2 separate regions of the Homo sapiens genome follow, and region 1 is linked to region 2. The links come from fine-mapping of genetic effects on gene expression. Tissue or cell type: atrial appendage. Region 2 holds a variant in brackets; the other region holds the start of a gene. All regions are shown on one strand. Distances are from middle to middle.

Evidence for each region. PIP is the estimated chance that this variant, and not a neighbour inherited with it, causes the effect.
Region 1: it holds the start of NAA80, and the variant in region 2 is fine-mapped to the expression of NAA80 in atrial appendage (GTEx, PIP 0.94).

Annotation. Positions count from the first base shown.
Region 1 is chr3:50,298,366-50,300,973 of GRCh38, reverse strand. It overlaps NAA80 (N-alpha-acetyltransferase 80, NatH catalytic subunit), which reads left to right and starts at 1,569. Exons shown (of 2, transcript NM_001200016.2): 1 at 1,569-1,761. HYAL3 (hyaluronidase 3) reads left to right here and starts at 1,569. Exons shown (of 4, transcript NM_003549.4): 1 at 1,569-1,761. It overlaps HYAL1 (hyaluronidase 1), which reads left to right. Exons shown (of 4, transcript NM_033159.4): 4 at 174-1,081. The coding sequence ends at 491. RefSeq lists an enhancer at 1,836-1,975.
Region 2 is chr3:50,439,502-50,442,254 of GRCh38, reverse strand. All of the region lies in intron 2 of CACNA2D2 (calcium voltage-gated channel auxiliary subunit alpha2delta 2), which reads left to right. Among named protein-coding and RNA genes, the nearest start is that of CACNA2D2, 63 kb to the left of the region's middle. The variant A/C (reference allele first, on the strand shown) is at 1,199.

The sequences.
Region 1 (2,608 bases), 140 kb after region 2:
GGCATGAGGGTGGGGGTGGGGGAGGGGTGGGGCCATTAAGCTGACGGGGTAGACCCTGACTTACCCTTTCTACCTGCAAAGTCCTGGCTGACCAGCAGGTGAGTGCCTCAGTGCCCTGGGTGGGTCCATACATGGCCATGGTGTCCCTGACGCTATCCTCCCTTCCCACCTAGGAATCATGTCAGGCCATCAAGGAGTATATGGACACTACACTGGGGCCCTTCATCCTGAACGTGACCAGTGGGGCCCTTCTCTGCAGTCAAGCCCTGTGCTCCGGCCATGGCCGCTGTGTCCGCCGCACCAGCCACCCCAAAGCCCTCCTCCTCCTTAACCCTGCCAGTTTCTCCATCCAGCTCACGCCTGGTGGTGGGCCCCTGAGCCTGCGGGGTGCCCTCTCACTTGAAGATCAGGCACAGATGGCTGTGGAGTTCAAATGTCGATGCTACCCTGGCTGGCAGGCACCGTGGTGTGAGCGGAAGAGCATGTGGTGATTGGCCACACACTGAGTTGCACATATTGAGAACCTAATGCACTCTGGGTCTGGCCAGGGCTTCCTCAAATACATGCACAGTCATACAAGTCATGGTCACAGTAAAGAGTACACTCAGCCACTGTCACAGGCATATTCCCTGCACACACATGCATACTTACAGACTGGAATAGTGGCATAAGGAGTTAGAACCACAGCAGACACCATTCATTCCATGTCCATATGCATCTACTTGGCAAGGTCATAGACAATTCCTCCAGAGACACTGAGCCAGTCTTTGAACTGCAGCAATCACAAAGGCTGACATTCACTGAGTGCCTACTCTTTGCCAATCCCCGTGCTAAGCGTTTTATGTGGACTTATTCATTCCTCACAATGAGGCTATGAGGAAACTGAGTCACTCACATTGAGAGTAAGCACGTTGCCCAAGGTTGCACAGCAAGAAAAGGGAGAAGTTGAGATTCAAACCCAGGCTGTCTAGCTCCGGGGGTACAGCCCTTGCACTCCTACTGAGTTTGTGGTAACCAGCCCTGCACGACCCCTGAATCTGCTGAGAGGCACCAGTCCAGCAAATAAAGCAGTCATGATTTACTTAGCTGTTTACTGAGCGCCTAAAATGTCCAGGCCCCGGTATCCAAAGGGCACAGGAAAGGCTTGTCACTCTCACCAGATCTGACGTCAGTCTAAGGGCGGCTGCTTCCCAGGGTGGGGCCCAAATTTCAAGAGGAAGCCCCACCTGATCGGACCGTTTCCAAGCTGTCCTGGGGCAGGAGGCCGGCGGGAACCGAAGCTAGACTTGTCAGAGCCTGGGGCGGGGCTGGCGGAGGCAGAGCCAGCTGGAGGCGGGGCCTGCGCCTGGCTGAAGTGACGTGCTGGGCTGGGGCAGGGCCTGGAAGAAGCCAAATCGAGGCGGGACCTAAGCTGTGACGCAAGGAGAAGGAGGAGGGGCCTGTATGGGGCCGGGTGGGGAGGAGGCGGACTCAAATGGAGATGGGGTGGGGCTCAGCAGGGGCGGAGCCAGGGTAGAGACTGAGTCGGCGCCTGGCGGGTGTTGTGACGCGCAAACCAGGGGCGGGTTCTAAGCGGCGACGCGCGGGTGCTGGGAGGCCTTAGAACGCCGTGGCGTGCCGCAGGACGCGACGGCTGCAGAACATCCGCCGCACCGCTGGGGGCCAACGTTGTCGGACCGAGGAGTCCGAGGTGGCGACTGAGTGAGATACCCAGCTGTGCGGAGCTAGGACGCGGAACATCCCAGAGGCCAGCATCAACATGTCAGTACCGCACCCTTCCCATTTGCTGCCTGTAGGTCCACCCCGCGCGTGCGGTCCCCAAGTGGCCATGCCACCCTGCACGCCCTCCCCGCGTCAGTCGTTCGTTTCCAGACCATGCCGAGCCACACCTGCCCACAGAGTCGAGCTCTCGAAGTCCTCATTCCCAAAAGCTCCACAGCCTGTGACCCACTAGGAGGGAGGGGGAAACCGAGGCCCGGGAGAGACGGAGAAGCCACTCTCTGAGGACCCCGGAGCCCCGCCCACAGTGGGTGGGGTCGGCACTGAAGGGGTTAAGGCCGCGGGGAAGCCCCGGGCTCAGCCCTAGGGGCGGATCCTGGGGCTTCCTCCCTCTAGACCAAAGGGTGCGGCTGCTGCAGAGGTGGCTGATGCAGGTGAGGGGCTTACAGCCCTGTGAATGGTGTGGGAGGTGAGGGGAGGGGGGTGCCTGTTACTGACCAGTGTTTAATTGGCCTCAAGCTCAGGAGAGGTAAGGGGAGCCAGGAGGCCCCCTCTGGAGCAGGTGAGTAGAAGGAGGGGGCTCAGCTGCCCGCCCACGACTAGAAAACCCCCAGCATAGACCTGCCGGACGGCAGGACCTTGGTTAAGATGGGAAAACAGTAGGGTTTGGGCACAGGAGGTCTGGGCCCCCAACCTGGTGACCGTTGGACACCCTGTGGATATAGGAAGGAAGCTGTGGTCCTTATCTAGGGTGCCTGCGAAACTCAAGCCAGTGGGGAACCAAGCCTGCAGAGGCAATACTGCTGTGTGACTGTGGGCCAGGCCCAGTGCTGGTGCTGCTGGGGCCCCATCTGAGGAGACAGTTGGGTCTATATCCAAAGTGTCCTGA
Region 2 (2,753 bases):
AGTGTGCCCCCTCTCCAGCCCCCTTGCCCAGGGCCATTTGGGATTGTCACTTCTGTAGTAGGGAGACCTCATTTGATTCTTTCTCACTCCAAACCTGTCCCCAAAGCATCCTCGTGACCACCAAGGGAGCCAGAATTTAGGGGAGATAAAGTCACAGACTGCAAGCTTCACATAGGCACACGGCCATAGGAATGCTGTTATCTAACGATGGCAGCCTGGAATCCAGCCACGGTGCTTGCTAATGATGGGTGAGTCCCTTCTCAGCATTCCTGACAGCTGGGCTGGAATAGTCCCTGTGGTGGGGGGCTCACTACTTATCCAGGTGTTGCTTTCAGGCTTTGGGAGTCCTGAGTGTGGGAAAGTTCCTCCCACTTCCGAGCTGGATTCTGCAACCCTGTTCACAGAAGCCATCAGGAACCTTGGAGAAAGGACCTCTCATTTTGGAGCTGGGTGGATACCATTTCCTTCTAGGACTGTTCTCCCCTGAGATACAGGCCTTAACACTGGAGGCCTCAAGTCAGGCCTGGTGTAAATGGATAATCAGGATTGCCACAGTTTTCAAGTCAGTTTGGAAATTCGCGTATGTTTCAGAGGAGCAAAGGGCTACACCCAGGAATGGGCCATGCCCAGTGTCTCTGGTGGGTGGTGCCTTGCCTGGGGGCACATTTAGGGCAGGCCTCACAGGCAGGCTCTGCACAGGGGCAAGCACAGGGAGGTTGGCACAGACTGGCCCTTGCTTGGCTGGGAGGATTTGGTTTATTGTTTTGTGTTGGGTTTTGTGTCTTTTGAAAAACAAGAGATTGAGCCTTTTTATGACATGGATTTTACAGCGTAACGAGGCAGCGTAATTTCCCATTCTCAGCAGCAAGTGCACTTTTTACACTAATTGCATAATTAGACATAATGTACTAATTGCGGTAATGGATGACAGTCAACTAAACTTTAACTTTAAAAACAGGGAGGCGTTGCTGGGGGTGGTGGTGGGGGCTTCAGGCCCCTGTGAGTTTTGTGAAGGTAATCTTGCTGGTGAAAGCTCCTAGAAGTTGCCTCTTGAGGACGAGGGACCACAGAGCCGCCAGGCCTTTCTCACCTTGTGGTCAGTCACATGTCCCTCCTTCCTGGAGGATCCCCCTGTCCCCACCACCTGGGTATCTGCTCCCCTTGCCCTCACACCCTGTCTCCCCAGCTTCTGTCCCCC[A/C]ACAAGCCCCTCTGCAGCCACTGAGCAGTCCCTTATCCCCGCTTCTCCCAGCCTTTGCACCTGGCGCTACTGCTGCCAAGCGTCCCTCGTCCCTGTCCACCCACAAAAACCCCTGCCCAGCCTTTCAGACTGCTCAGATGTCCTCTCCCCTGGAAAGCCCTCCCCAGGCTTTTTCTTGCCCCCTACCACCCTGGAGCAGGCCAGCCCCACTCCCAAGTGTCTCCTGCACAGCTCTGTCTACTGCCACCTGTCTGGGCATCTGTCCCCTCTGGATAGAGAGTCCCAGGAGGGCAGGGACGAGGTCTGTTCCATCTCTGCTGTTCCAGGGGGATGTAAGGAGGTGGGGGTGGGGGAGGATAGTGCTATTAATGGGCCGCCCACCCAGGAGACCAGGCCAGGCACCCTCCTCTCTGCTCCCACACTGCTGTGTGACCTCCACTGTAGCCCGTGCAGGCTGATTGTAATGGCCTGGTTCTGTGTCTGTGATGCCCTCTAAAGAGAGCGTTCATCCCAGGCATTCTGTACTGGATATGAAGGGGAATTATTAATGGGACAACTAACATCACAGTGTACAAAACCTGTGTGTGACAGGACACCATATACAGCTGAGTGACCATGGGGCCACCCCGCCTGGGATGGTGGCAGTGTGGCATGGCCACTTAGGAACCTAACATGGCAGTTGGCAAAAATGTCAGCAGCTGATGAAGCATGTAACTGAGTGGCACGCAGCCCCCCTGCCTGGGCACCGATAGTGTGCCCTGAGGGCTCCAGGGGCCCCTTGCCCTACTGTAAGCCCTGTGCCAGGCTGGTGAGGGACAGGCCTTAGCCCCCTCCTGGGGAGCTGCCAGTCACACACCCAGTCTCGTGGCTGGTGTGTCCCCAGAGCAGCCAGATTAGGGTTTTTGTGCACCCATCATGGGGCAGCCCCTCAGTCCCATCAAGAACTAGGCTATAGGGAGAGCCCTGAGGGGTGCAGCCTGTCCTGGATCTGTCCCAAGTGCTGTCAGTGGTAGAGGGTCCCCAGGTGCCTGGTTACCCCATCAACTCTCCAGTCTTCAAGGTGGATTTGCAGTTATGTCAATACCCTCTATTTTCTCACTGAGGCAGAAGGCCAGGTTAGCAGCCTAGAAGGGGTGGGTGAGGCAGGGGGCCCGGACCTGGCTCTACCCTGACTGGCTAGGGTCCTTGAACTGGTCACTACCTGTCGCCAATCGCCCTACCTCATTGGCCCAGCTCAGGCTTCCTGAGCCACCACAAGCCCCCTAGCCACCCACCCAACATCCCTGACATGAGTGTAGCCCAGTCTGGCAGCTGACCCCGGCCTCCAACTGCAGACCCTGTGGCCTCTTGAGGTGGTTCCCTCCCCAGGGCTTGTTTATTTGGGTTGGGCCTCAGGAGGCCTCGCCCACAGTCTCTCATCCACTGGCTGCCCTCCCTGCAGGGGCCTAATGGACAGTTAAGACTTTCACCTGGCTGCTCCCTGTGGTGAAATGTGGTGAGGGGATTGGAGCGCCAGTCTCCCCGGAGTCATGCCTCGGGGCTCAGGCCAGGGGTG